2 separate regions of the Homo sapiens genome follow, and region 2 is linked to region 1. The links come from fine-mapping of genetic effects on gene expression. A gene starts in region 1. The other region holds a variant in brackets. All regions are shown on one strand. Distances are between the middles of the regions.

Region 1 (16,389 bases):
AAACTATGTGCCAGTTGCTGTGCCAGTGCTTAATTTGCATCACCTTGCTTATAAAAGCCAACCTAGAGAGGAAAAGTCTGACACTTCCTCCAGGTCCAATCTAGTATGGCATCTTTAAGGGGTCAGACACTTTTTTTTTGCTTTTCTTGAAAAAAAAAAAGAAGCTAAATATCTAATGATGCTTAACATTTAAATCATCTTATCATCTTAATTATAGCCTCCGAGCTTGCGGTTAATATTAAAACCTAAGAAGAACCAATGCAAATTAACATGAGTGATAAGCCTCTGATCAGTAAGGCCCCTCTGGGCTCTAAGAATATGAAAATTCAAAAATTGCCCACCCCACTTAACCACCAGGCCAATGGTAAAATTAGCAGCCTGATCTCAGAACTGTTTCTAGAGCTTGTGTTTCAGCCACACTTTGTTTTGATGATCTTCTGTAAGATCTACTGTTCTTTTTAGTTCTGTAATTTTTAGTCTTGTAACTGTTGAGGGTTTTTGTCTTGTACCTGTTAAAGATGATACTGGTACAAATATTCTATAAACATTTATGAAAGTTATAACTTTAAAAAAGCCAACATGTCTAAACAAAAATGTTTTCAACTACAATTTCTTAATAGAATTGGGTTTGAAGCATACTATAATATGGAAAAATAATCAATAAAAATCTTAAAGTCCTTACAGAGGAATCCACCTTTTCATCTTCTTGTTTTCTCTTCACTTTTGTTGGTTTGTATTTCTATTTTTCAATGACTTCCCATTTCTCTACTAATTCTGAACATTAATTCTCCCCTCTAGAACTCATATATAATTTGTGATTCAAAAATCCCTTTAGGCTACTGAATTACTATTTTTTTTATTTTATTATTTAATATATTTTGAGACAGGATCTCGCTCTGTTGCCCAAGCTTAACTACAATGATGCAATCACAGCTCACTGCAGCCTCAACCTCCCAGGCTCAAGCCTCCCATCTCAGCCACCCAAGTAACTGGGACTACAGGCGCACACCACTGCACCCGACTAATTTTTGTGTGTTTTGTAGAGACACGGTTTTGCCGTGTTTCCTAGGCTGGTCTCAAACTTCTGAGTTCAAGCAAACCACCCACCTCAACCTCCCAGGGTGCCGGGATTGCAGACATGAGCCACTGGTGACCGGCCAGGCTACTAAATTTCAAAATGTGCTTTCTTAATGAAAACCTTAGCAACAAGCCAACTATTACTTATAAGGTAGAAAATTAGACATATTCCATTCACCACTCCCACATATTAAAGCAACTTCTACATCAGAGTGACTTCATATAGTAGTGTGCTTTACTGAACTGCATCTCAAAAGGTTTCCTATTCTCCTGACTAAATCTCCGGCTCAGGTCCTGCTGCCCTAAGGCCTGCTGGGCTCCTACCTACCTAAAAAACAATTGTCACTCTCAGTTCTGGAAGCAGCTCTGACAGCCTTGCCTCTGACGTGTGTGAAGAGGAGAGAAGCTCAAGGACTTTCTATGAGCAAGATTGCAGGAAGAGTAAGGAAGTGGATGGAGTCTTTACAGCAACAAGAAGTGCTTTGATCTATAGCTATGAAATGGACTTGATATTTTAATGAGGGAAAGAGTCAGCTTCTGAGACCAAAAAAGGAGGGGGGCAGATAGATGGACACTGAAAACAAAAGCAAAAGGGTTAGAAACAAATTTAGTCAGGAAGACACAAGACTGGTACATTGAATATGAAAAACATTGCAGAAAGAAATTAGAGAAGACCTAAATAAATGTTCATGTATTGGAAGACTTAAGATAGCAGTATTACCCAAAGTGTTTTACAGATCTTTATAATTCCTATTAAAATACTAATGACCCTTTTTAAGATGTGGAACAAATCATAACATTCATATGGATTGCAGGGGACCACAAATAGCCAAAACAATCTTGAAAAAGGAAAAAAAAGTTTGGAAGACTCATAATTCCTGATTTCAAAACTTACTAGAAAAAAAACAAAAAAATTACTAAGTAATCAAAACAGTGTGGTACTGGCATTAAGAATAGACATATAGGCTGGGCAATGCGGTGGCTCATGCCTTTAATACCAGCACTTTGGGAGCCTCAGGCGTATGGATCACCTGAGGTCAGGAGTTCAAGACCAGCCTGGCCAACATGGTGAAACCCCGTCTCTACTAAAAATACAAAAATTAGCCAGGCATGGTGGCACGTGCCTGTAATCCCAGCTACTCAGGAGGCTGAGGCAGGACAATCGCTTGGACCCAGGAGGCAGAGGTTGCAGTGAGCCAAGATCATGCCACCGCACTCCAGCCTGGGTGACAGAGTGAGACTGTGTCCCCCCCAAAAAAAAAAAGAATAGACATATAGATCAATATATGGAATAAAATTAAAATTGAGAGTCCAGAAATAACCCATATATCTATAGTCAGTTGATTTCAATAAGGGTGCCAATATCACTCCATAGGAAAAGAATAGACTTTTCAACAAATATTGCTGAGACAACTGGATATCTACGTGCAAAACAATGAAGTTGGGTATATATAAATATATAAATATAGATACAAAATGTATCCACAAGATATACACAAACTAACTCAAAATAGATCAATAAACTAAATATAATATTTTAAACCATAAACTTCTAAAACTCTTACAAAAAACATACGGATAAATCTTCATGACCTTGGATTTGGCGATGAATTATTAGATATGATCCCAAAAGAAAGTACAAGCAACAAAAGAAAAATAAATACATTAGAAATCAGCAAGATTAAAAAACTTTTGGGCATTATGGCCAGGTGCAGTGGCTCACGCCTGTAATCGTAGCACTTTGGAAGGCCAAGACGGGGGGATTGCCTCAGCTCAGGAGTTCAAGAACAGCCTGGGCAACACGGTGAAACCCCGTCTTTACTAAAATACAAAAAATCAGCTGGTGTGGTGGCATGCAACTGTAGTCCCAGCTAATCAGGAGGCTGAGGCAGGAGAACTGCTTCAACCCAGGAGGTGGAGGTTTTAGTGAGCCAAGATTGTGCCACTGCATTCCAGCCTGGGTGACAAAGTGAAACTCTGTCTCAAAAAACAAAACAAACAAAACAAAAAACTTTTGGATATCAAAGGACGCTATCAAGATAATGAAAAGACAACCCGCAGAAAGAGAGAGAACACTTGAAAGTTATATATCTTTTTTTTTTTTTTTTTTTTTTTTTGAGACAGAGTCTCACTTTGTTGCCCAGGCTGGAGTGAAATGGCATGATCTTGGTTCACTGCAAGCTCCGCTTCCTGGGTTCAAGCGATTCTCTTCCCTCAGCTGGGATTACAGGTGCCCGCCACCACGCCCAGCTAATTTTTGTATTTTTAGTAGAGATGGGGATCACCATGTTGGCCAGACTGGTCATGAACTCCTGACCTTGGGTGATCCTCCCACCTTGGCCTCCCAAAGTGCTGGTATTATAGGCGTGAGCCACCATCCCGGGCTGAAAGTCATATATCTGATAGAGGTTGTCTGGTATCCAAAATATACAAAGAACTCTTACAACTCTACAACAGAAAGACAAGCAACCCAACTGAAAAATTGGCAAAGGACTTAAACAGGCATTCCTCTAAAGATATGCAAATGCCCAACAATCACATGAAATGACATTCAACATCATGAGTCATTAGAGAGATGCAAATCAAAACAATGAGATACTACTTCACACCCACTAAAATAGCTATATTTTAAAAAAAGAAAATAATAAGTGTTGCCAAGAATGTGGAGAAATAAGAACACTCATACATTGTTAGTAGGACTGCAAAATGATACAGTTGTTATAGAAAACAGTTTGGTAGTTCCTTAAAAAAATAAACATGGAATTACCATATGACCCAGCAATTCTTCCCCTAGGTGTATAGCCAAAAGTATTCAAACAAAAACTTACACACAAATGTTAATAGCAGCACTATTCACAATAGTCAAATGGTGGAAATACCCAAATGTTCATCAACAGATAATGGATTAACAAACTATGGCATAATAAACAATGTAATATTATTTAGCCATAAAAAGGAAGAAGTTTCTACATGCTACAATGTGGATTAACCTCAAAAACATGATGCCAAGTGAAAGAAACCAGACATACAATGTCATATGTTGTATGATTCCATTTATATTAAATATCTAGAATAGGAAAATCCATAGAGACAAAAAGCAGGTCAGTGGTTCCCAGGGGAGAAAGGGGAATTGGAAAGTGAAGGCTTTATGTGTATGGAGTTTTCCTTTGGGGGGATGAAATGTTTTGAAGCTAGATAGAGGTGTTTGGTGCACAACACTCAATGTGCTAAATGTCACTGACTTGTACATTTTGAGATGGTTACTTTTATGTTATGGTTATTTTACATCAAATTTTTTTTTTAAAAGATGGTTGGCCGCTAATGTACAACCCACTGCAGTCGTTGGCAGTTATTTTATAAATGTATATTTGCTGACAGATATTTTCATAATCGTCATTATGAATCAGGTTATAAAATAAATTATAAATTAAATTTTAAAGATTATAAATGTTAAATTAAAACAAATTATAAATTTTTACAAAGCAAAAGAGCAAACCAAAGAAGAGAAAAAACTGAGAAAGAGAGGGAAGAGAGGCAGGAAACATGAGAGAAGAGAGAGAGAAGGAGGAGGAAGAAAAGGAAAATGCAAAACAAGAGAGGAGAACAGGAATATGAAAGAGAGTTAGAGCAAAAATTTTAAAGTTGGGTAATATCAGGTGTCACTGGGGGTTGTGAAGAAAGGAGAGTGCAGGAAGGAGCACTCTCCTACATACCTGGTAGGGATATAAATGGACACAGACACTCTGGAGCACGATTTGTCAGCAGCAAATAAAATGAAAATGAACATACTCAGAGCCCTACTTCTGAGCATATATTCTGGAGAAATCATCACATATGTGTCCAAGGAGCATGCACACAGCATTTGTTTGCTATATCAAATGCTAGAAATAGGCCCAGTGCGGTGGCTCATGCCTGTAATCTCAGCACTTTGGGAGGCCAAGGCGGGTGGATCACTTGAGGTCAGGAGTTCAAGACCAGGCTGGCCAACATGGTGAAACCCCATCTCTATTAAAAACACAAAAATTAGCCAGGTATGGTGGCAGGTGCCTATAATCCCAGTTACTTGGGAGGCTGAAGCAGGAGAATCGCTTAAACCCAGAAGGCAGAGGTTGCCGTGAGCCAAGATTGTACCACTACACTACTCCAGCCTCGGTGACACAATGAGACTCTGTCTCAAAAAAAAAAAAAAAAAACTACAAAAAACCTAAATAGTTAAGAGGATGGATGCACTGTGATATGTTTGTGAAAACAAGTAAAAATCTAAGCTGTTGGAACTTTAAAACATTTTGAGCCTTAAGGGAATCTGATTATGGGATCTGAGTCACATGTAAACAGGCAGCTATAAAGTAGGCAGCTGTGACCTTTTGTTTTTCTGATTAAGATTAGCCTTTGTCTTTACCTATGTTGTTTTGTAAAATGTTATAAATGACTAAAGGGTACCAGGGAAGACCCCTTCTCTCTTAACTGTTGATCTTCATTATAGAGTAACTTCCCTCTTTCCTCTCTCACACAGACTTCATGACTATCACATTGTCTAAGATGGAATGTTAAATACACTCTTTTAAATAGGAAAAGAAAACAAGCTGTATGGAAAAGAAAACAAATTGTAACTAATTAAATTGTTGTAAGTCATAAACCAGCCTTGTATAGAAAATGTTATAATCCTACTAAGTTTCTTTGTTTTCTGCTGGTATATGCAAGATCTTAACTTTGGAGCACTAACTCCATTCCTTTGGAGTCTGTGTTATCTGAATGGCATTCTCAGCTTTTCACTTGGAAAAATGCTTTTAAACTGGATTCTGATCCTTTCCATTATTTCAGGTAGACATACTAATAATATAATAGTATATAGTCATTTAAAAGAAGAATTTTATATATACTATATATGTGAAAAGATAAATGAACTTCAAGGTATTTTGTTGTCTGGAAAAGAAAGTTGGCAGATACAGTATAATGCCAAGCAATATATCTTAGTATATTGAATTATATTCATGTATTACTTATACAATAAAATGTATAATAACAAAAAATGAGGGATACAGAGAAAGAGAACTCTGCCATGATCAAGGCAAGAAAATACATGTGAAGGAGTAAGAAAGAGAAAAATCAGAATGCAGCAGGGCAGCAGTATTTAACACAAAATTTTCAAAGAGGGATCGCACTCTGTATATACTCTCAAAATTTGGGTCGGGGGGTGCATTTAGGAGTCCAGGCATGGATTAAGTAGATCCTCTGCTCAGGGTTTCACAAAACTGCAATTAAGGTGTCATTGGTTTGTGTTCTCATGTGGATGATTGACTGGGGAAAGATTTACTTCCAAGTTCACTTAGGCTGTTGACAGAATTCATTTCCTGGAGTTTGTAGGACTTCTTGCTGGCTGGCTATGGGCCGGAAGCTGCCTTTCAGCTCCTAGAGGCTGCCCATGGTTCCTCACCATGTGGACTTTCCAAGCATGGCCACTGCCTTCATCAGGCCAGACCGGACAGTCTCTAGAGAGAGTCTGTTCATAAGAGACAGTCTTTTATAATGTAATGTGGTCATGGGAGTGATATCCATCACCTTTGTTATATTTATTTTCAGAAGCAAGTCACAGGTCCCAACCCCTCTTAGGAGGAGGGGATCTAACACAGGTATGAACATGAACAGGTACTGGGAATCAGAAACTATTGGGGCCACTGAAGAATCTGTCACACAGGGATATCTTTGTTGCATTGAGACAGGAAAGCTATTTTAAGATGGTGTGGTGAAAAAGGATAAAAGCTCCTTACTCAAGCTCTAGCTTATCTAACTCTCAGTCAATAGGTAACAAAACACCCAAGAAGCTGTTAACTGCAAGCTCCTATTTCAGAGGGCTAGGGACTTCCCCAGATCCCCGCCTGTACAGTTAGACTTAAACTCCAACCTACATTTACCCCTTCCTCACTTTAATGCTAAAAATTACTCCTGGGGTGGAGATTTAAAATGCTAATGCTACATATGATGTATGAAAAAGCATATTGGGCCACTGTGCAAGCACTAGAAAAACTCCTCCTATAGGTGCCCTGATGTAACCCTCCCCTATAGAAAGACCCTATAAAACTGACCCACACACTATCCTCAGAGCAGTCCGTTCCTTTGCCTTTCTTGGTGCTGACTCCCTTGCGCACAAGCTGAATACACTTTCCTTTGCTGCTATGTTTGGTGATCTCTGTTAATCTCTATCATGGGAGATCATAAGAATCCAGGGCAACAGTAACAGCTTCTGAGTTTTTAAATTAAAAATAACAGTAATATAATCCTTAAATTTTTAAAATGTAGGACACTAAACAAGTAAAATCTAAATCCAGAGTACATCTGACCTCAAAGTTCATGGGCTTCTCACTTCCCTGGCCATAGTTTAAAGGTGTGTGTGTGTGTATATATATATATATACATATATATACACACACACACACACACACACACACACACACACACACTATGGACTACATCCAGTTCAAACTGGATTTCCAACATTTGAGTAAATCCCTGCAATGAAGAGAAAGAGCAAAGGCCTAGGAGTCAACTGGTTTCTAGCCATTTCTGGGGTGTAAGAATATGTGTATTTCTTGATCCTCAGTTCCAGCATCAATTAAAGGGAGTTAATTTTACCATCTATATTCACTGTTTTTGTGGTTACCCTGGGGCTCAAAAAAGACACTGATTGCTCAATAAATTCTTGTTCCTGGAGTCGCTGTTATCAATATGGTTATATAAAATGAAAGCGAACTAGAAGACAGGAGATGACATTCTTAAATTAGTGGCGTGTTTTACTGGTCGTCACCAACCCTCACATTTGTTTCATCACAAAAACAAAACAAAACTTTGCTAATTGCAAAGGAAGAAAAAATGCACCTGATCATTGCTTTAAAATTGTATGCATTTGGTTATTACTGATATGAGCTTTTTGTCATTTGTGTTTTTAAATTTTTTCCTTTTATGATTGTCTATGCCCTTTACTCATTTGCTTTTAGAGATGTTCATTGATTTGAATATAGATATTTTATTTTTCATGCAACAGTCCGTATTTATTGGTTGGGTGCGGTGGCTCACATCTGCAATCCTAAGCTTTAGGAGGCTGAGTCAGGAGGATGCCTGGGCCCAGGAGGTCGAGATTGCAGTGAGCCGTGATCACCACTGCACTCCAGCCTGGGTGACAGAGCGAGACACCATCTCTAAAAAAAAAAAAAATACTATATTTACCTCTCTCTCTCTCTCTCTCTGTCCAATACACCCTAATATTCCCGTCCCCACTATGGTGATTTACCTCTTCATTTTGTTTACGGTGTGTGTGGAGCGGGGGTGAGAGAGCAGGCGTGCAGTTGCCTTGGTTCAGCAGCCAGCCCATCGCTCCTGCCTAGTGTGACTGTGAATACTAGGTGTATGTTACAACCGGGAGCGGTGTACACTCGGGGAACCGCATCTTTGGAAACTTCGGTCCGTAGCGGCCGCTAGGATTCTCCGCAGCCCCGCACCCCGGTGGCCGAACCGCCTGCCCCGGCCCAGACGCAGCCGCCGCGCCCGCCCACCCGGCTGCGCCCCGGGGCGCGCGCCCGTGCCCGGCACCCGCCCGCGCCGCCGCGCCGCTCCGGAGCCCGCTGCGGTCACGCTGCGCCCGGCGCCGCAGGGTGGGCGGCGAGGCACTCACGAGGGGGACGCTGAGGGCTTCCGCGCGGGCCACCCGGGTCAAGCGCGCTCCGCCGGGAAACTTCTGCGGGCGCCGGGCTGAAGCTCCGGGCAGGGCTGGGAAGGAAAGGTAAGAAGGTGAGCCCGGGGGCGCTGCGTCCGCCGCCTTCCGGTGCTGTCCGCACCCTCGCACCTCGCGGCCGCTTCGGGCAACTTAGCGGGCGCGGCTTCTGCTGGGCCGCCGACCCCTGCGAGCGCTTGCGTCTCGCTGCCCCGCGCTGCCCGCGCCGCTCCCTTCCCGGCTCCGGTCAACTCCGCGCCCTGGGGTCCGGGGTCTGGGGTCCCGGCTGTGTCGCCGCTCACAGCTCGGAGGTCTAGGGGATCCTTTGCTGCGGTTCCTATCCGCGCCGACCCCTGAAGAACGCGAGTCGTATGCCCTAGAGGCTTCTGGGCGAATATTCCTCCCAGATCTTTTCCTGCAGGTCCTACTCTGGCCCCAGGCACCCTGGAGCCGAAATAAACAGGCCAGTTTTGCAAGGGAGAAAAGCCGTTCCTAGGGGCCCTTGTCAGTCCTGGGGAAGTCATGCCAGCGCCGGGAGTTTCCTTCCCCCCTACTCCCGCCCCCGGTCTGTAAGCAAAGGGCCTGACTGGTGTCAGTGCTCTCACACTGTTCTCACAGAGTTGGGGGTACAAAAAAGCTGCCTCATCAAAGGTCGCGCGGACCTGTTTTCTCCATTTGGGGATCCCCCTGCCAAAAAAGAAATTTGCCAACCCCTAAATTGTCTTATCACCATGTCGGTTACAGTGGTATAGTTTTGAGGGTCTGTATTTTAGGCAAAGATGAAAGGCACAACCAAAATACAGTAAGAGGGGCAGTGCCAAAAATTTAGCCAGAAGACATTTGCAGAAAGTGAAAAATTCTGTTTGTAAATAATAAATGGAAAAGTAGAATTAGAAGCCCACTTTTGGACGCAATTTGATTTACTAAACTTCGTTGCTTCCTGACTTTTCACTCTAATTCCGGTAGTTAGATATTTTGAATTTGCAAGCCTACAAACTGCAATTGAGTTTTATAGCAGCCTTAAAAAATTATTGTTGCCTGTTCATACTAAGTTTAGTGGCTATTTTTTTTCCTTCTTGTTTTTAATTCTACGGACTGTTGCATGAAAATATCCTCTTGTGAGAGTACAATAACTTGGCATTGTTCTTTGTGACAATAGAAAACCAAACAAGAACTACATGAGACAGAAAATATAAACAAAAAATTGGATCTCAGTTTCCATATTCGCAAAATGAAGAGCTCTGGCTGATCCCAGATTCCAGATATCTCTGAGGTTCTGTCCTGAAAAATCTGTGTGTGTGTGTGTGTGTGTGTGTGTGTGTGTGTGTGTGTGTGTGTCTTCAGGAGTTTGGGATACAAATATTAATTGAAATCTAAGATATTCTCTGTCCTCAAAATTTTATACATTTAAATGGGAAATATTTGATAGTTGAGTTTCTTTAATCATATCAGTCCCTCAAAATAGCTGAATCATGGTGCATCTTCTGCCTCTAAATGGTTACATTCTATGCTATTAAATAAAAATGTGTCATGGGAAACAAAAGTCCCATACTTTTCACCACAAGACTGACTAATACGGTTGACACACTAGAGCACTGATGCCTGCTTATTTTGAAACAGTCTCCAGGAAGAATTAAGAATGTTATGAAGCATTTGCTACAGTATGTGAGCATAACACATAAGCAACATGGCAGGCAAGAAATTTCAAAACTGCTTTGGAAATATCCATGATAGATCTGAAAGTCTGTAAACTGCAGTTGAGATCACATTTTGTAATTATGGTCATTGGTCAGTTGGGATTATGAGCTCCCTCGAGAGAATGTCCCTCCAATTAATAGAAGAGTATATCGAATCACCGATTCGATTGTTTTAAAGGAAGAGAGAAAATGTTTCTCCCTTTTATCTAAGTAGTTATAAGAAAAAGTCTTACAAGGAAAATTACATCAGGTGTTTTCTAAATTAAATAAATAACCGAAAGTTCCTGACTGAAATTACCTATAAAAATGCAGGGTCCTCCTCCAACCCAGAGAATCCAGGGATTGATTCACACAGACTTTTAGCGAGACTTTCTTACTTTGTGTTCTTCAACAGAATAATAACCTCCAGTGACTCTGGCACACTGAAATTGGCTAGGATGGGATCATGAAGGAAGGTGTTGTGGGGTAGTATTGGAAGGACAAGCAACTGGCTAAGCTTACAGAAGAATCTCCATCCCTCTGAGCTTCATCTTCCACTCTGAACAATGCTGACAATAGTATGTAGGTTTCAGAGTTGCTGTGACTCCTAAATGGATCTGTTTTAGGAATTAGTACCTGCACAGAGAAAGAGCACAGCTGATCTTGGTTCTTCCTGTCTTCTTTGGAAGGTGTTTGTTTCCTAGCTGAACAAATTGCAGCTGAACTGTAGATAACAGCTTTTGCTTTTAATTTCAAAATTCTGTGTGGCAAAATCTTGATAATTGTTGAATCTGGGTAACAGGTATATGGGAATTTGTTGTATACTATTTTCTCTATTTTTGTATGTGTTCAAAATTATCAGAAAAAAATTTAAGTGTGAATCTGAAAAAAAAACCCCACACTTTGAGTTATTTCTAGTCCAGGATTTCATTTTACATTGTCTGTTTCATTTTACATTGTATTTTTTAATTAGTGAATATTTAAATATAGAGAAATATAAATTATGTACTATATAGGGAGTGGATGGGCAGCGACTGGTCCTGGAGAACAATCCATGGCAGTCTTCAATTTTTTGTGTGGAATATTTTTTATTATGAAACAATCTAAAGAAAATATGACAGTGTTGATGGTTGTTAATTCTGGTTGTTGGGTTCATGGATTTTTTTAAATGTTTATATTTAAAATTTTTTTACATTGGTATAAAATCACCATATTGTTTCCCAAAATCATTATAAGAATACAAATAATGCAGCTGTTTTTAAAAAGGTAAAAATAGTTTCTATCCCACTATCAAGATATATTCATCTTTAACATGAAGTGAAAATCATTGCGTATGTCTTTCTATTTTTACACAAATAGGATATGTTGGTCGGGCTTGGTGGCTCACGCCTGTAATCCCAGCACTTTGGGAGGCTGAGGCGGGCGGATCACCTGAGGTCAGGAGTTTGAGACCAGCCTGGCCAACGTGGTGAAACCCCGTGTCTCTACTAAAAATACAAAAATTAGCCAGGCGTGGTTGCGTGCGCCTGCAGTCCCAGCTACTTGGGAGGCTGAGGCAGGAGAATTGTTTGGACCTGGGAGGCGGAGCTTGCAGTGAGCTGAGATCGCGCCACCGCACTCCAGCCTGGGTGACAGAGCAAGACTCTGTCTTAAAAAAAAAACGATATGTCAAAAGATTAAAAAGAAATGCTTTTATAAAAAATAGAATTGTTAAATAAGCAGGAGGCCATTAGCCTGAGTCTTTCTCCCTACTTTGAGTCCCTGTGTGAAAAACTAACTTTGTACATAAACGAACAGAAAACTAACTCAACAGTGTATTTTTTGTAATAGCCAGGTTTCAGCCAATCACAGGCGGCCAGCTCATCACATTATGCCCAAATAAAGCAGATGCAGAGCTGTAGCCAATCGAGTGATTTTGGTTTTTTACTTCTGTCATCAGTGTATAAAAACTGCAGCTCATGCTGCTGGATAGAGCTCTGTGAACCTCTTCTGGTTGTGAGTGCTGCCTGATTCGTGAGTTGTTTGTTGCTCAGGTAAACTGTTAAATTGAATTTATCTAAAGTTTTTCTTTTAACAGGATGATACTATATATGCTTTTTAAAATAAAAAAATTATATTTTAACAGAAGAAACTGTAGTGAAAGTGAAGGAATTGCTGAACTTGACATCAGTATTTCTTCATTCTTAGAGATAAACAAGTCTTCCAAACTAAGAGAAAAGTTTCTGAATACATCTTGAGATCAAGATTTTTTAAACATACATTAATTTAGACAGTCAGAGGCTCCCTGTTATAAAGGATGGAGCACTGGGCACTCTTACATTACCTATAGTTTCACTTCTACTCATATCCCAGTTTTTATTCTTTCTTTCTTTATTTATTTTTTGAGACAGAGTCTCACTCTGTCACCCCAGGCTGGAGTGCAGTGGTGCGATCTTAGCTCACTGCAACCTCCGCCTCCTGGATTCAAGCAATATCCCTGCCTCAGCCTCCCAAGTAGCTGGGATTACAGGCATGCACCACCATGCCCGGCTAATTTTTGTATTTTCAGTAGAGATGGGCTTTTACCATGTTGCCCAAGCTAGTGTCAAACTCCTGACCTCAGGTGATCCTCCCACCTCTCCTCCCAAAGTGCTGGGATTACAGGCATGAGCCACTGCGCCTGGCCTATTTTTTATTTTTTTAATTTTGGAGACAGGGTCGCATTGTGTCACCCAGGCTGGACTGTAGTGGCATGATCACAGCTCACGGCAACCTCAGCCTCCCAGGCTCAAGCAGTCCTCCCACCTCAGCCTCCCATGTAGCTGGGACTACAGGCATGCACCATGGCACCCAGCTTTTTTTTTTTTTTTTGGAGAGTTAGGGTCTCACTGTGTTACCCAGGCTGATCTCAAACTCCTAGGCTCAAGGCATCCTCCCACCTCAGCCTCCCAAAGTGCTGGGATGACAGGCATGAGCCACTATACCCAGCCCCAATTTTAAAAATATGTTTATATTGTGAGGATCTATAACATTTGCATTGTGTTTTGTAAACTTCATTTCAGATACAATTTTTTTTTTTTGAGATGGAGTCTTGCTCTGTTGCCCATGCTAGAGTGCAGTGGAGCATTGTTGGCTTACTGCAACCTCAGCCTCCCGGGTTCAAGTGATTCTCCTGCCTCAGCCTCCTGAGTAGCTGGGATTACAGGCGTGTGCCACCACGCCCGGCTCATTTTTGTATTTTTAGTAGAGATGGGGTTTCACCATGTTGCTCAGGCCAGTCTCGAATTCCTGACCTCGTGATCCACCAGCCTCAGCCTCCCAAAGTGCTGGGATTACAGGTGTGAGACACCACGCCTGGCCATTTCAGATATAATTTAGTCTTAGTTTTATAACTAAATGAAATCACGATGAATCACTGGTTCTTTTACCATGGCATCTCAAGTATCAACTTTTGATTCATCCTTTGATTGGCTAGATTTTGTCAGTGTGTCTGTTTGTTTCCAAGAAGGGCTCATTTCCTGTGTCTTTTTATGTTTGAAATGCCCATGTTTCTTTCCAGACAGTCCCTGACTCACAATGGTTTGACTTAACCATTTTTCAACTTTATAATGGTGCAGAGACAATACACAGTCAGTATGCTCAACTTTCGGTGTGGTTACACCCAAGTAAACACATCATCGTCATAAATTGAGAAACTGTAAGTCAAACGTGTGTTTTCAACTTACGATATTTTCAGCTTACCATGAGTTCATTGTACATTGGGGAGCATCTGTACTTGAATGACCATTTGGCTGGCTGTACCATTTTTGAGCCAGTTTCCTTACCTCCGGATTATATAGCCTTCGCTCCATTCACTGCTAGCATCTAATGTAGCTGTAGAGAAGTCTAAGTTTGGTTTCAAAATTTCTGGCTGGGCGCAGTGGCTCACGCCTGTAATTCTAGCACTTTGGAAGGTCAAGGCGGGCGGATCACTTGAAGTCAGGAGTTCAAGACCAGCCTGGCCAACATTGTAAAACCCCATCTCTACTAAAAATACAAAAAATTAGCCGGGTGTGGTAGCGCCTTTAATCCCAGTTACTTTCGAGGGTGAGGCAGGATAATCGCTTGAACCCGGGAGGCGGAGGTTGCAGTGAGCCAAGATTGTGCCATTGCACTCCAGCCTGGGCAACAAGAGCAAAACTCCATCTAAGAAAAAATTTCTTCCTTGCAATTGATTTGCTTTTTCTGCCCGGAGTCCTAAAGTATCCTTTATATTCCTGAAGTGTAGTAATTCAGGCTATATCCTTGTTAAGTTCTGTATCAATTTTTCATGGAACCTGGTGCATTCCTTCTATTTCTGTTCTTTCTATTGGAATAATCTGTTGTTCTTAATTTCAGGGTTTTTTTTTTTCCCATTATGAATGCTTTTTCTTTCCAATTTTGTAATTCTCTACTTCAAAGACACCAATTATTCTCACACTGTCTCATCTTTATTCTCCATAATGATTGTTATCTTGTTTTAATTTCTCCTGTTTTCTTCATTCACTGTACTTGTCAAAATGATTAAAATGTAACTGATTTATAAATGAAAGTGTAGCATGGTATAAACAGAAGCAGGTTAGATATGAGGATATTTGGATTCTAACTCGGCCAAGTCTTTCTTAAAGAGGTTTTCTTGCTTGAAAAATAGGAAAATAACTACCCCTTCCTCCTGCCCCCAGTATTTTTGGAGCTATGAAATAATATACATGTAGTAGTTCACACAGGTTCTGACACAGGGTTGCTACTCAACAGATGCTGGTTATTATTACTTACTCCTCCATTCAAGATGCAGGAGGGGTGGTGTTAGAATTCAAGTTCCAAACACATGTTACATTATAATTGTTCTGGAAGTCACAATGCATGAAGGAGAGCTAGTACCTTTTCCTCTATGTTATAAAGAAAATTTAACCTCCATGAGAAAAAGAGATAAACAGAAGCACTTTAAAACATTCTGTTTGGAATTTATTTTGTGGAATCTCAGCTTATTTTCTGTTGTTTGAGTTCATTTTCAAGTTTATATTAAATCTTGGTAATGCATGGAAACCCACCAACTAGTGGAGCATCCTTGATCAATACTTGGTCAGATATGAAAGGAAATTTAAGATAATGATTCTAATCTCATTAAGACTTTAGACTGTTTTAAAATGTAGCATTTCTTTAAAATTTAGTATGCAACAACTGACTTTTTTATTATACTTTAAGTTTTAGGGTACATGTGCACAACGTGCAGGTTTTTTACATATGTATACATGTGCCATGTTGGTGTGCTGCACCCATTGACTCGTCATTTAGCACTACGTATATCTCCTAATGCTATCCCTCCCCCCTCCCCCCACCCCACAACAGGCCCCAGTGTGTGATGTTCCCCTTCCCGTGTCCACGTGTTCTCATTGTTCAATTCCCACCTATGAGTGAGAACATGCGGTGTTTGGTTTTTTGTCCTTGCAATAGTTTGCTGAGAATGATGGTTTCCAGCTTCATCCATGTCCCTACAAAGGACATGAACTCATCCTTTTTTATGGCTGCATAGTATTCCATGGTGTATATGTGCTACATTTTCTTAATCCAGTCTCTCATTGTTGGACATTTGGGTTGGTTCCAAGTCTTTGCTATTGTGAATAGTGACGCAATAAACATATGTGTGCATGTGTCTTTATAGCAGCATGATTTATAATCCTTTGGGTATATACCCAGTAATGGGATGGCTAGGTCAAATGGTATTTCTAGTTCTAGATCCCTGAGGAATCGCCACACTGACTTCCACAATGGTTGAACTAGTTTACAGTCCCACCAACAGTGTAAAAGTGTTCCTATTTCTTCACATCCTCTCCACTGGACCTGTTGTTTCCTGACTTTTTAATGATTGCCATTCTAACTGGTGTGAGATGGTATCTCATTGTGGTTTTGATTTGCATTTATGTGATGGCCAGT
Region 2 (16,389 bases), 21 kb after region 1:
AATATAAACATTAATGACATATTCTTTACTTTTTTTTTTTTTTTTTTGAGGCTGAGTCTCGCTCTGTTGCCCAGGCTGGAGTACAGGGGCATGATCTCAGCTTATTGCAGCCTCTGCCTCCCAGGTTCAAGCAATTCTCCTGCCTCAGCCTCCCGAGTAGCTGGGATTATAGGCACCCACCATCACATCTGGCTAATTTTTGTATTTTTAGTAGAGACGGGGTCTCACCATGTTGGCCAGGCTGGTCTTGAACTCCTGGCCTCAAGTGATCCATCCTCCTCAGCCTCCCAAAGTGGTGGGATTACAGGCGTGAGCCACCATGCCCAGCCTATTCTTTACTTTTGTACAGTCTTCACAATCTATTGTGAACACTTTCATTTCTCCCTATGCTCTTTTTCAATAATCTTAACAACCCTAGTTTTTATTTAGCATTGACCTGTGTGATAGTAACTGCTAAATCTCTCTCCCTTTATCCTACCCCTTATCCTCTGCTGTAAATTCTGCTACTCAGAGCATCAGATTAAACATGGCTAAAACTGAGTTCCTTTTTCCTCTGACTTTTTCCCTAACTTCAAGATCTTGTATAACCCCAAAATGTCTTCAACCCTTCTTCGTTCCTCTGTTTCAATAGATCCTTTCACCTCTTCCTCATAGTCTAATACATGCTTCCCTTTTTTTTTTAATTCAACATCTAAACTGTTGATTCAGGAGCTTTCTGATTTATTAAGCCTTATCCCAAGCTTATTTCAAACACTGTTTTTCTACCTGTGCACTCTTGTCTTTATTAGTGAATGTTTACTAAAGACCACTTTGTGCTAGACAGAGGAAAATTTCAAATATATTTATATAAATATATATATACACACACACAATGCTCTATCAATAAAGCTGTTATTCTACACACACACACACACACACACACACAACCATCTATGTTCATTTTTTTAAATGCTTGAATATGTAACCCAACTGAAAAAATTAAAAAATTGTGATGCTTTAAAAAGGAAAAATATACATAATGGTCAGTATGACACAATCTATGATGGAGGCTATGTAGACAGATAATAAAGGCCATTAAAAACTCAGCTTACAAGGTGCACTTCAGGCCACCATGGTCAGGGAAGGCTGCTGCAAAATTTCCACAAGCTTCATCCCTCTTGGACTGATGAGTGTACGGAAGGAAAACGTCTTTTCACCGAGGTAAAGGATGGAAGTGAGAACACATGAAGAGGAAATGTACCTTTCTGGCTCTTTAAAAACAAGGATTAAAATCCAGATCCTTTATTCTGTGGAATGTTCTGGTGTCTCTTTTCCCTCCCCCACCCCCACCTGTCACCTCCTTCCTATCTCTTAGATTTGTTCGACACTTCTTAACCCTGGTTGAACATCAAAATCCCTGGGAAGTTTGTGAAAAAAATTCAGTGCCCCGGCGACAAAACAGGCCAGTTAAGTAACAGTCTCTGGAGCTGGGCCCCAGTCAAACACCTGGTGTTAAGACCTGCAGTCTTAATTCAGTTCTGCCACTCGGCTCTATATTTTGACCCATGTTTGGAATCATCTTCTACTCCACATCATACAGAGTCATGTCATTTTAGAGCTCTTATGATGTTGTCCAATTCTTTCATTTTACCAATGAGGAAACCAGTCTAAGGAGATGAAAATCACATAGCTATCTAGGGATACAGCTAAGACTAGAACCCTTCTCTTGGGTGGAATCTTAGTTCCATTATAAGCAATGTGACATTGAACAACTTAGTTTTTTGCTGAATTTAAATTTTCTTATGTGTAAAATGGAGATAATAGTACTTTCCTCCTGGGGTTGTTAAATGAGATAATTTTAAAAATATGCCTGGCACATAGTTGCTGGGTAAATGTACCACCTCAAGGACAAGTCAAAAAAACTAAGAAAATGATAATTTAGCTTAGGGAACACATGCCAAAGTTGAGAGCTGATCCCAATTAATGAGTAGAATATTGATGGAATTTTCAGTTTGTGGGTTGCTTAGCAACCAAAACTCACTCAATACCACTGACTACCCAAGTTGTTGTTTTTAATCAAAGCAATAAACTGTTCTTAAGGAGTTCAAGGTTGTGAACAGACAAAAGGATTCCCTTATGCATTTGGGGTTGTGCCAGGCATTTTGAAAAAGTGATGCCCCAGCTCCTCTGTGTTTTTGCACTTAAACATCTTGGACATTTGGAGCCCCCCAATTCTGTGCCCATAGATGACAGAAGATGTTACAATATCTGTTACATTGGATAGAGAGTGAGAAGGGAGAAGGCAGAGTGCTTGCACTTCTGTACCAATGTATTAAGCCAAACTTATTGAGTGCTAAGGCTCAGAAATACAAAAGCATTTGTCTTTGCCCCTGCTGCCCCTGAGAATTTCAGTCTAGGAGAGGAAACCAGTCAATATTGAATAATACAGCAAATTATTCATGAGCGGCTCTCTGTGTCTCCAGCAGTATTCTAAGAGTTACAGACTGAACAGTACAAGAACTTATAGGGTAAGTCTGAAATATCCATGGTTAGGATTTTTATTTTCTTGGCAAAGCAGCCCTGGAAGAATATCCCACTTGGGTTCCCCAAAACATTAATATTTGATTCACAGTCTTGAGAGCTGGCACTGAATGTTGGAGAGGGTCTAAAGAGGGGCGGACGGGAATTGGAGCTCCATGCCACCACCTGTTTTACCTGAAGCCAGAGACTCAACCAATCTGTGCCCTTCTTTTCTCATTTGTAAGCTGGACATGATGATTTAGATTCTGCCTCCCTCGTGGCAATGAGATAATAAATGCAGAAGTTCTGTTGCAATAAATGCAGTTTCTAGCTAATTTGCCAGCAGGTTTACTTTGCATTTCATTGAGCATCCTTGTATCTTCATTTACATTTCCTATTCCTTTATAACTCGTAATCTTAACAATTTAAAGAGAAAAAAACCCAGATGAGCTTGGAACAACTGTGTTTATTTGCACTTAAGTTTGTCTTCATCATTTGTAGCTCAGTGTGCTAACTTACTTTGCAGTGAAGATCAACTCTAGTGCTTAGGAAAGAAATCCATTGTGCCACTTTGGCATGTCAGCATTTATTTACGCAAAACATGACCTCAGGCTTACAGGCCTTTAAGGCAGACAGCTGGTTGATGAATCATGTTGGACATTCATATAGTGCTGCTGGCACATGTCAGAAGGACACTCCTGCTCATCACCTGCCCCTGTCAGTTCTTCCACTTCTAATAAAGCATATCTGTTTTGGTGACCAAATAAAAACACAAGTGAAGAAGGGCTGGGTGTGGAGTAATTTAATCAGGGCAAGTCAGCACGCTGCATTGAGCAGTACAGTATCAAGGATAAAAAGATGGTTTGGTAACAGCTGAATGAAACGAAGTAGATTAGTAAAGATGGAAGCACAGTTCCCCTTATAATCATAATGGGTCATGACCCTGGAATGCAGAAGCCCCAATATATCCTACAAATCAAGATTTTTAAGGAGACAGGATTCCCAGAAGTTCCCTTCTGAATTGCCACGAACGTTTTACATGGCCTTTCTCTATTAGCATCATTTTAACATTTCGCTGAGGATTATAAATTTTTAAGGAAGTTCAAACCAAAGTTCAGAGCTCCACTAGCAAATCTTTTTAAACTGGCTTTCGTGGGTGTGTTTGGTATCCTGAAGAATTGATTGATTTAAAATACCCTAGTTTTGAAACAGCAGGGAGACTGACATTTGCAGCCTGGTATTTTGCAGTTCTCACTACTCATTGTATTTGAACAATAATTTTTCTTTGTTGTAATACCCAGTAGAATAAAATTTTGTGCTTTGTTTAAAAGAGGAGAAATTGAACATGTTCAGGATGCTGGCCTGTCTTCAATTTCATCACCATCATCTCGTAGATTGATTGATGGGGAGAATAATTAGGGATATGCAGCATGTTTGAAATGTATTTGAAAACAAGCAAAAACAACAATATGACTATAAGTTGTAAGTCTAAGCTTTTTTTTTCTTTTTTTTTAAATGATTCACCTGGCAGTGTTCTTGAAGTCATTACTTACTGAGAAAAGAATCACTATCCAAGATGAAAAATCAGGAACTTCAACAACAGCTCCTTTATTTCCATTTCTACTTCTGTTGGTGATTACACTGTTCCATTTTTTACTCCAGCTAAGTCATTTTCACCTCTGTATTTTTTCTCCTATGGGGCAAGATCTGTGATATCTGATAGTTTATTAACAGGTGTGCTGGAAATAATCTATTTCAAAAATAAAACACTAAATATAGCACACAAGTTCAAGGCTTTTGAATGTTACCATGGTTTTAAAAAATCAATGTCATGAATGCTTTACACTGAAATCATTTATTGTTAGGAAACTGGGTGGCAAATGATACATATATCCTGTAGCTCTGTCATCATGGCTAATGCTCTCCTGACTCAGATTACATATTAGCATTTCCACCATATGGCTGAAAGGGTAGAGAATGTATGTGCAGAGGAACAGAGTTGGTAATATTTTTGACCATCTGATAAATAAATATGTAAGTAACAGGAATATTAATATTTATTTCATCATATGATGCAAGCTTTAACCTGAAATAACCACTAATACAACAAAGTAGTACATTTGTTTCTCAAATAATTTCAATCTAATTTATTAAATATTTCCATAGTCAATTAATGCTCTTAGAATGTGACTTCTAATTATGTTTCTTATGTTTATTGATATAGTAGGGTTCCTTATCATGCCAAATTTAAAAATCTTTCCTGAGAGGCCACACGATTGGACCCAGCATATGGGCATGAGCGCCAAAGTTCTGCTCTGCCAGTGACCACTGTGTGGCCTGGGATAAATTACCTGACCTCTCTAAGCCTCAAATTAATGTGTAAAGAGTGAATAATCTATTATCAGACAGTATCCCTCAAAGGGTGGGCCATGGAGGACCATGGATTAACACATCAGAATCACATGGGGAGCTTAAAATACAAACATCTGGGCCCCACCCGCAATGATTCTGGTTCATGTATCTGGAAGCAGTCCATGAATCTGCAAATATATATATGTATTAATACAGAGTCTTACTCTTTTCGCCTAGGCTGAAGTGCAGTGGTAAGATGATCTCGGCTCACTGAAGCCTGTCTCCCAAGTTCAAGTGATTCTTGTGCCTCAGCATCCTGAGTAGCTGGGATCCCAGGCGCACGCCACCACGCCTGGGTAATTTTTCTATTTTTAGTAGAGACAGGGTTTCGCCATGTTGGCCAGGCTGGTCTCGAACTTCTGGCCTCAAGTGATCCACCCACCTCAGCCTCCCAAAGGGCTGGGATTCCAGGCACACGCCACCTCGCCCGGCCCGCATTTTTAGTCACTGTCCCGAGTGATTGTGAGGTACACTGAATCACTCCCATAGAGACGAGATTAATATAGAGCACTTAGCTACCTTGAAAAATATGTAGCTAATTTTAATAAATATACTTTTTATACCATAGAAATTTAACACCCAACAGCATTTGTGCTTAAAATACTCTAACTTCATAGAAAATGGGAGGTCAGCTTGCTAAGTAATGCTGCTGATCATTAAATATACCCCACAATTCTCCTTTTTGTTTAATTAGATCCTTTATCTTTTTTTCTCTTGCATAGGAAATACCAAAATATTTGCAGACTGGATCCAAATCAGGAGCCCAGATGAACTTAAAGAAGCGAGCATGGGATTCTTAGTTTTTCAAGATCCGTACACACGAAGCCTTTAATCAGCATCAACTCCAGTGTCCGTTTTCTCTGGTTTTGTGAAGACTGCACAAAACTCTCATGATGGAGAACCAAAGGACTTAGTTACCTGTTTCAGTGTCATCTAAAGTCAACTGAAAAGTGAAGCAGGCAGTAATACAGCCATGGAAAGAAATTCAAGTTTATGGAAGAACCTAATAGATGAACACCCAGTCTGCACAACCTGGAAGCAAGAGGCCGAAGGAGCCATTTATCATCTTGCCAGTATTTTATTTGTAGTAGGTTTCATGGGTGGCAGTGGATTCTTCGGGCTCCTTTATGTCTTCAGTTTGCTGGGGTTGGGTTTTCTCTGTTCTGCTGTCTGGGCTTGGGTAGATGTCTGTGCAGCTGACATATTTTCCTGGAATTTTGTACTGTTTGTCATCTGCTTCATGCAATTTGTTCATATTGCATATCAAGTTCGCAGCATAACCTTTGCCCGAGAATTCCAAGTGTTGTACAGCTCCCTTTTCCAGCCCCTGGGGATCTCTTTGCCTGTCTTCAGAACGATTGCTTTGAGCTCTGAAGTGGTTACTTTGGAAAAGGAACACTGTTATGCCATGCAGGGGAAAACTTCCATTGATAAACTCTCCTTGCTTGTTTCAGGAAGGTTTGTACCTTTGGTGCTTGCATGTCTTTCCTCAAGTATTAGTTGTTTGTGTTTCTTTCCACTATATTTTTCCATCTCAGTATCACATAGTCCTGGGTGGCATTTAGCACCCTGAGGCTTGAGGAAGTCTTTGATACTTGAGTCACAGACATAGCCATTTAGAATATATGGCATTATTTACTTGAAGCAGAAAATAATCAAGAGCCTTAATATTTCATCTTAGAAATCAAATTACATAAAGTATGAATTTGTTTATGTGATATGATATTTGTTTCCTAATTACTGAAAGTCGAGAAGAGGATGATGTCAGCTTGAATTAATAGAATACTTATATTGGCGTGCAAAATATTTTAAAGACTCTTTGATAGGGCTTTCTTTTAAGTAACAGAAAACATTTAAATTTTATTATTATCTTTTTTTCTTCAGTAAATTCTAGCAATTGCCCATGAGAAGCAGGCTGGGGAGACACTTCAGGAACATATATAGAAATCTAAACTTTGAAAACAGGCCAGGTGCGGTGGCTAACACCTGTAATCCCAAAAACACCTGTAATCCCAGCACTTTTGGAGGCTGAGGCAGGATAATCACCTGAGGTCAGCAGTTCAAGACCAGCCTGGCCAACACTGTGAAACTCCCATCTGTACTGAAAAAATAGAAAAACAAAATTATCCAGGCATGGTGGCACATGCCAGTAGTCCCAGCTACTCGGGAGGCTGAGGCAGGAGAACTGCTTGAGCGTGGGAGGCGGAGGTTGCAGTGAGCTGAGATCGCGCCACTACACTTCAGCCTAAGCAACAGAACGAGACTCTATCTCAAAAATAAAATAAAATAAACTTTGAAAACAAAGTTTGGGAGAGGAAACAATAATGGGATTACTCATGGTTTTCAAAAAGTTAAAAATGTGGCTTACAGGCCAGGCGCGGTGGCTCACGCCTGTAATCCCAGCACTTTGGGAGGCCGAGGCTAGTGGGTCACTTGAGGTCAGGAGTTCGAGACCAGCCTGGCCAACATGTTGAAACCCTGTCTCTACTAAAAATACAAAAAACTTAGCTGGACATCGTAGTGCACGCTTGTAATCCCAGCTACTCAGGAGGCTGAGGCACAAGAATCGCTTGAACCTGGGAGGAGGAGGTTGCAGGGAGCCCAGATTGTGCCACTGCACTCCACGCTGGGCGACAGAGTGAGACTCTGTCAAAAAATAAATAAAAAATAAAAATTTGGTTTACAGAGGTATTTGCAGAACTCCTCTATGTTCTTAAATGTTTCCCTACTTAATTTAAAATCTGACAAAGTCCATTAAAATGTTTTATTGAAGTATAATATGCACACATAAATGGACATATATAAATGTACAACTTGATGAATTTTCTGATGAATTTCACTCAATATTCCAGAATCCTGACTGTATAAGGAACATGATAACATGAATCTTACAGGACATTATGTCACTTATTATAATGTATGAATTTAATATTTTGCCTTTCAAAATCATAAAGGGCAAGAGTCATCAGGGATCTGAAATACACTTCCTCTACCCCCCACCCCTCCCCAATTATGTGCTCTCTTTCTCCTTCCCTTATAAATGTTGTTCTTGTGTTTTGATAGGATCAGAGTGACAGTTGATGGCGAATTTCTGCATTACATTTTCCCCCTTCAGTTCCTGGATTCTCCTGAGTGGGATTCACTGAGACCCACAGAGGAAGGCATTTTTCAGGTAAGGGATACCAGAACACACAGTTAGCACTCCCTCTTTCAAACAGATGTTTGTTTAAAAATAAGTAAACAAATAAACAACAGTGGATAAGACAAGAATATTTTAAGACTTTGGAATGTACTTTGCAGCATACATGACTTTCCCAATTCTGCTGGACTCTTGATGATTAATGCCACTTTATAGGTCCAGCGATGAGAAGAACAGGTGCTACATATGACAGGAAGGAGGCTGTGATCAATACTTTAAGCTTTACTTTGCATAACTGCGTATTTAGGAATTAAAATATAATTGAGATTTGACTAAACACTGCTAATGCGACGTCTAGAAAACATCAAGAACAAAAAACTGCACTTACTAAAAAATAAATGATTTTTAAAATTTAAAATGCCAGTGGATTTCAGTTGTTTTACAGCAACAGAATGCTAAACTTACTGTCATTACTCTGCTGCCACGTCTGGCAGTTTTGAAAGATAATCATTTCAGCAGGTTTCATTTATTTTGTTACACAGTTTTCTAACAAATATATGTGTGTATGCAACAAACTCAAATATGTATGCAAATTAGGTATATAAATTCTGTTTTCTACTGCAGAAACTGCATTAGGGTTAAATGTCCACAGTCTTCAGAAGTGACTTGGAAATATTTCTGTAACATCAGCCAACTTTTTTTTTTTTTAAGATCAAGTAGTTCTCCCTTCAATAAAAGAAATGTAGATACTGGAACTTAGAAAAACAGACAGATTGAAGATGGCTAGAACATTGTGATTATTCATATTATAAATTACGTATGTAGTAACGAATTTTGTAGTTTCTATTTTTGCAATATATTGTAGGTCAGTGGGCTTTTTCAACCTAAAAAAAAGGCAGCACGTGAAATTAATTTAACAATTGGGGTACTAAAAATGTGGCAGAAGTTTTCTTGCTTCCACATCTGTTTATGTGTGGTCTTGTGTTTTTTAGGTAACCCTCACTGCAGAAACTGATTGTCGATATGTGTCTTGGAGGAGAAAGAAATTATATCTGCTCTTTGCTCAGCATCGCTACATCTCCCGCCTTTTTTCAGTGCTAATTGGCAGTGACATTGCAGATAAACTCTATGCCTTGAATGACAGGGTATATATAGGAAAAAGATATCACTATGATATTCGGCTACCCAACTTCTATCAAATGTCAACTCCAGAAATACGCAGATCACCCCTGACACAACATTTTCAGAATTCCAGACGATACTGTGATAAATGACATCAAAGTCTGAAATTTATAAGTATAAAAAAAGACTCTCTCTTCATCATTCCCCAGTGAAATAGCAAAATACAAAAAAAGAGCTCCCTAATGTTTTTATAAATCAAATTCAGAAGCGAGATGCCATTGCCAACTGTTTTATTCCTTTCAACAACTGCATTGTGAATAAACTTTACAAATTTTTCTTGTATTTCTCATTGTTATAATTGGGGAGGGGGTGGATAACTATGGGCAGTTTGCCCTTTTCTGCATCAAAACTGGGAGAATGAAATTCCACTTTCTCAATTCTTTTCTCACATTTACTCAAATGCATTGTCTTGCCCTAT[A/G]GACTCAGGAGTTGCTTCTCAAGAAAGAGCCAGCAAGTATTCTCAGCCTGAGGGTGGGTTGCTACTGTCCACATAGGCATTTCCGGAATTCACTTTTTTGCTACAACCTCCAGTGAAAGCAATTATTTATTTTAAATGTGCAGTTACTTGATGCGACTAAAAAGTAGAATAAATGCAAGAGATAATAATATGTGAATCTTGAAGCCTATTTTATTGCTACAAATAAAATAACATTTAAAAAGAAGCATTTCCTGGAAAACAAAGCTGCCTGATCATTACTAAGTCAAAAGAGTACTCCTGAACCAATAGTAAAAATGTTGCACGGTGTTTCAGTTTCACGTGTTCAGCAGAAAGAGCTTTCAGTGGTGTGAATGGGCAGCGAGGGTTCACAGGGAATGCTCAGCCCACCGCACAAACACAAGGGTCTGCCTCACAGCGAGTGCTTCAGCTTTGTGAAGAGCTTAAGAAAGAACCCTAGTTGGAGATCTGATCCCTTCCTTTGGAAAACTGGTTTTCTGAAGATCACATGCAGACTATGTTCTTTGATACAGAGATACATTATCAAATATTTAACAAGTGTGTATTGAGCACCTTCTATGGCTGACATGGGCATGGGGATACATCAGGTAACAGATGGAGATCCCACCCCTCATAAAGCTTACATTCTGGGGATGCGGGAGACATAATAAAGTAAATCAGTAAATGTTTAGAAGGTGATAGTACCAAGGGGAGTGATAAATTAGAGAAGGTGGGTAAGAAAGGGCATTGCAATTTTAATAGGGTGGTCAAGGAAAGTATCCACAAAAAGGAATGTCTGAATGAAGACCTGAAAGAGGCAATGGAAGAATCCATGCAGATATCTGAGGGAAGAGCAATTTGGGCAAAGGGGACAGCAACTGAGCAGGCCCTTAGGCATGAACATGACTGGCCTGTTCCAGGAGCAGCTGGAAGGCTAGTTTGGCTGGCACAGAATGAACAGAAAGTAACCGTGGGCAGACTGGGTAAGGCCTAAATAAGTCATGGTAAGGACTTTGATTTTTTTCTAAGAGTGACCAGAAGCCATTGTAGGGTCTGAAGTAGAAGAGTGATATGATCTGCCCCATGGTTTAATAGGATCACTCTGGCTAGCCTGCTGAGAATAGACTAGGGGGAAGAGAGAAAAGAGTGGACTTGGAAAGTAAAATGAGGATTAAGAGTGAGATGCCTGCTAGACGCTGAAGTAGAGTAGACAGCTGGAGATATGAGCCTGGAGTTTCAAAGAAAAGTCTGCGCTGTAGAGACAGCTTTGGGAGTATTTAGCATATACATGGTATTTAAAGCCATGAGTCTCCATGAGATGGCCAAAAGAGTGAGTGTAGATTCAGAAGAAAAATGGTCTGAGGCTTACCTTGGAGCACTCCATTGTTAAGGGGACAAAGCGATGGGGGAAGAATCAGCAAAGGATCTGAGGAAGAGCAGCCAATGAGGTAGAAAGAAAATCAGGAGAGCCTGGGATCCTGGAAGCCAAGCAAAGAGAATTTCTGGGAGAAGGGAGTGATGAACTGTCTCAGATGTGGCTGAGAGGCCTGAGAATGAACCATCGGGTTAAGCAACATGGAAGTCACTGGGGAACTTAACAAGAGCAGTTTTGGTGGAGTGAGCAGGAACAAAAACTCGACTGAAGCAGGTTGAAGGAGAATGAGAGGCAAGAAGTTGGAACAGTAAGGGTAGGTAAGTTTTTCAAGGAGTTTTGATGTGAACTGAAATAGAAATGATCAGTAGCCTGGGCAGAAAGTGGGGTCAAGAGAGGGGGTTGTTATTGATTTTCAGATAAGATGGTGCATTTGCATGCAGATGGAAATAATCCATAAGTGAGGAGTGAACTGCGGGAGTGATGACCTTGAGCAGGTGATGGGATCCAGTGGCCTTAAAGAGAAATATGGACAATTCTTCATGAATGAAAAGAGAAGAGTATCTGTGAGAGTAGTTGCTGGCAAGTGGGAGATGTGGTGAGAGATTGTGAAAGTTCTCCAGTGATTTTCATTTTCTCGGTGACCTAGGAAGCAAAGTCAGCAAGGAGAACGGGAGAGGAAGTACTGGGGTTATGTAAAGGACGTTGCTTTTCCTGTATGTTAGCATCTACCATAAGTGGGACAATGTGACAAGATGTAAATCATTAGTCTGGATGAACTACTGAGCTATTCAAGTTTAGCATGAACTAAAGGAATCACTGGAATGGTTTCTTCTATTTCTTGGCCACACATTGCCATCATGGGCAGCTCTTCCAAGCAGACACGAAGGCAGCTGTCTGCCAGATGCAATCAAAGGCCTTCAGGAAGCACCCACTGGCTTGTCAGTGGGCTTTACAATGGCTCTGGGAGAAATTCATTTCTTGAATCTTTAAGACTTTGAGATATTTATAAAGTATTAAAATGCAGAGCATCCCAGGTAGAAGTCACATCTTAAGTTAGTACTACCAGGTAATAATTTTACAGGGATTAATTATCAGATAGCTTTCTAACCATTAAAGTCAGCAGAGAACAAAGCCACATAGAAATGGGATGTAGACTTTTGGCTCAACTCAGTGGCAGAGGGGACAAGATTTTATATGTAAGTTTCCCAGAAATCTATTTTTACTATAAGGAGAAAGGGGTACAAACATAATGGGATAAAGGGATACTGAAAGAGGAGGTAAAGGGATGCTTTGAAACTTCACAGTCTTCACTTCTGTATAGGGCTGGCACTGTTCCTTGGTGTTAACAGATATGCTATTATCCAATACCTAGGTTTGCACTCAGGTTTTCTCACTTTATTAAAAAAAAAAATCAAAAACCTACAGTGACTTTTAGGTAGCTGTATTGTATGTCTGGTTTGAAATGTCTAGCAAACCACATACTATCTCAAAATAATCAAACCAGATGGAAAGCAGAAATGACACATATCCTAGAAAAATACCTCTGACCTCTGTATCATAGTGCCCCTAAAATTTAATTTTTATTAAAAATTGGGCTCATTTTAGTCTTAGCCTAATTATTTCCATCCTTTGGTTCTCTTGTCATTGATAAGAGTGCACTAAGATGAGCAACAGCTTGTGTTCTTGTGCTAAAAATGCTTTATGGCTTTGTATACAAGATCTGGATATTCATAAATAAATGGACTCTTTGTTCAAAGAGTCTTAAGAATTTCAAGATGGAGATGGCAGAGCATTATGCCAAGTGCGGGGCTCTTGTAAGCCTGGAGCCCTTTGTGACTGCACAGGTCGCATGCCCAGGAAGCTGGCCCTAGCTGAGTTGTTCCTAGACTTTAAGAAATTGGGGTGACTGCCTTGTGATTTTCTGTCCTAATTTTCATGGTCAGGAGGGACTCTGAGAAGTAGTGAGTCCGGGAAAAGAGAGTGGCTTTGGCACAAAATGAGGCCGTAAACACCCCACACCCCAGTCGCCAAAGCAAGTCCCTGGAGGCTGCAGGCTTCTCTCTTGCATGGCCTTTCCTTTACCTGCATATCTGGAGGCTTCCCATCCCCATGGGGCTATTCCTCTGAACTTGATTTGACCCCTGTGCAAATATGAGAAAGGATCAGTGGGATTTGCCTTGGACTCTGCAGCCCCTAGGAACTCATGGTCTTGAGATTAGTCTACTGTAAAGAATAGTATGATGCTCTCTGAGCACTTACAGCTTGAAGAATTTTTCTCTCCTCTTCAACAGGGGAGCAGAAGGAAATTCATTTGCTCTCCGCTCATCTGGATAAGCTCTGGATGCCACATTGTTACACTGCTCAGACCCAGAAAGGCAGAATTAACAGGGCAGTTACAAAGTGAAATTTCCTCAGCTGACAAGAGCCATAAGAAAAACAAACTAGGCAGACAGTACATATTATTGTAAAAGCAATACGTTTACAATTTTATGTATGTGAGATGCTTGGTTTGACAAAAGCCATAAATATACATGCAGCATTGGATGGCACTTTCTAATCGGGTTCCATGTTCTTCCTATACTGCACATTGTTAGAGAAATTAAACTTCAGAAATGATGTGCCAATTTAGTATTACTTGTTAGTAAAAGACAGTTTTTATACAAGTTAAAGAGATCAATGGGTCCAATTAATTCCACTGTTTTTCTTCATTCTACTAAAATTTAACGCATACATATCAATCAAAAATACAAATAAGCATTAGTATGATATAGACCTATTATAATAAAATGCAGGTTTAATTTGATAGAACTGTGTATTATTTCAAGACCGGAACTCTCACAGCTGTGAAAAGATGCAGCAAGACTGAAACACTGGTTACTTTAACTCTTAGTCATCTCATCGTAAGTATTACCATGACTGTAATGCTGAATTGTACATTTGCATATAATATCAGCATGATTTGAACATAACTTCAAGTTTTATTGCTATGCTAAATTTGACTAGTTTTAAAACCTACTAGCTATTAAAGATTGGCAGGGAACTTTAAAACACTTTTCTCCCTAAGAACTGATAATTTGTGTCTTGAACTGTAATTGTCCCCTTTTTTCTTTTATTCCAATTCAAGCTTTAGTGATCTTAATAAGAGTAATTTTATTTTATTTATAAGATTCTAAAATATTTGTTTTTACATAATTTCATAGAATTTTAGCTCCACTTGATATAATATCAAGTGTCTCAGGCCATCAGAATTGAGATTACTACTCTTATTAAATGTAAATTTACCTCACAAATTATATAATTACAAAACAATGTCTTACATTTATTTAACACTTCATAGTTTATGAAGCACATGCCTACATGTGATTTCATTTGCTTGTTCCTTGGAAGGATCCCATTTTATGGATAAAAATCAGAAAGACTGAATCACAGTTAGTAAACAGTGGTGACACTCAGCTTAAGCCTAATTCTTCTAAATCAGTGTCCTTGCATTTTTCATGCTGCACTGACCATGTTCTTGACTGTGTTCCTGACTTGGAGAGTACTAAAATGTCCCCAGTCTGACTTGAAGGAAAATTCAATGCCAAAATGCTAGTTACACATCTTCCAAATCTGTTAGTGACAGCATGAGGAAAAATTATTCAAACATGAACCTTTCTTCTTTTGAATCATCAGCAGTAGCTTGAGCTCAAATGTGGTTTACAAGTAAAATGTGTCATTAAGTGTAACTCTATTTTAAATGGCTATAAGTTTACATAATGAAAGAACAAGGCCAAGTTTCTTTGATGCAGTTTAAATCAGTTTTTAAAGTTTTGGTTCTGTCCAATTTCATTCAGATATTATCACAGCTCAATTGAGGTCTCTCTCTAGGTATCCTAGAGAGAAGCCTTCATTATCTCAGCCCATCATGTTTTATGTGCCATCCACTCCTTCTTATAAGAAAATTAATTCAGTGCCCCTTGTAGTGCTACTTCTCTTTCTTCTCTCAGGTAGAATAAAACTTTATGTACAATGAAACGTTGTAAAAGCTGAAGTTTTTTCAAATAGCACCAGGTAAGGGTTCCAAGATGTGGAAGAAATTTTTGGTGTAATACAAGTGGGGTTTCTGAAGAACAGGATATTACTGCAGAATATAAGTTGGTTCCTTTGAGATAAAAGTTTAACCAATGCACAAGCACAATGTCCATCTTATGAGAAAAGGAATTCTACTCTGAAACTCTTCCACTAGTCTATATCTTCTTCACTGTTAGAGAACAATGCCTGGCACATGGTAGCTGCTTTGTAAATATTCATTGCATAGAAGGAAATTAATTGCATCTTTATTTTTGAGACAGAGTCTCACTCTGTCACCCAGGCTAGAGTACAGTGGTGCCATCTTGGCTCACTACAACCTCTGCCTCCTAGGCTCAAGCAATCTTCCCACCTCAGCCTCCCCAGGTGCTGGGATTACAGGCGTGAGCTGCCATGCCCAGCCAATTGCATCTATTTTTGTATTTGAATTTTAACATTGAATTCCCTTCTCAAGTTGATTTCAATTATGCAGTGCCACTAGTAGTTTCTCATGAAATAAAATGTAAGAACTATAATAATAGCATTTTTTTATGATATAGAATTATTATTTCCTTAAATGACTTTCAAAGTCACATTTTTTCTTGCTGATACTGTTGAAGTGAGTCTGAACAGCACTTGTTCAGGATGCACAGTTATTAGTCTTTAGGTTCCAAGATCATTTATTGAATTGAAAATCTACAAAATGATTTTTGCTTAGAGATTCTTTGTTGGGAATGTTAAAAGGTAAACTTAGGCAAAACAAAATTTTGAAGAGTTTATTTGGGCAGACAGCAATTCATGAATCAGGCAGCACTAGGCTACAAGTGGTTCAGAGCTTCACTGTAGGGGGACAGGCAAGAGAGAAACTTATAAGGTCCAGAAGCAAGACAAAGAAAATATACTTCAGTGGTTAGTGTGGAAAGTCCCTAGTTAGAGGCTGGTTGGCAATTTCTGATTGGTTAAGCTTAAGTTTTGTTTTACTGTTTACACTGGGCTTTGGTTTTTTTACATAGGAGCCCAAGGCACTGGAGCCACCTCAGCCTAATGGCCTCCCAATTAAATTTTCTTTTTTAACAGAAACATGTAATGGATTATCATGTCCCTCATAAGTGCAGTCAGCCCCCTGTATGTGAGGGTTCCACAGCCACAGATTCAACCAACCTTGGATCCAAAATAAAATGTAAGGCCTGTAATAATAGCATTTTTTTTCCTGCATGATGTAGAATTACTATTTCTTGGAAATAATAATTTGGAAAAAATTTAAAATAACAATACAACACTACAAATAATACAAATAAA

What was found. PIP is the estimated chance that this variant, and not a neighbour inherited with it, causes the effect.
Region 2: its variant is fine-mapped to the expression of POPDC3 in left ventricle (GTEx, PIP above 0.99). The same link has a PIP of 0.9 or more in tibial nerve.

Annotation. Positions count from the first base shown.
Region 1 is chr6:105,172,295-105,188,683 of GRCh38, reverse strand. It overlaps POPDC3 (popeye domain cAMP effector 3), which reads left to right and starts at 8,670. Exons shown (of 4, transcript NM_022361.5): 1 at 8,670-8,851.
Region 2 is chr6:105,151,405-105,167,793 of GRCh38, reverse strand. It overlaps POPDC3 (popeye domain cAMP effector 3), which reads left to right. Exons shown (of 4, transcript NM_022361.5): 2 at 5,634-6,369; 3 at 7,975-8,083; 4 at 9,043-9,894. The coding sequence starts at 5,885. The coding sequence ends at 9,324. It overlaps POPDC1-AS1 (POPDC1 antisense RNA 1), which reads right to left. Exons shown (of 4, transcript NR_037157.1): 3 at 1,092-1,250. Among named protein-coding and RNA genes, the nearest start is that of POPDC3, 20 kb to the left of the region's middle. The variant A/G (reference allele first, on the strand shown) is at 9,651.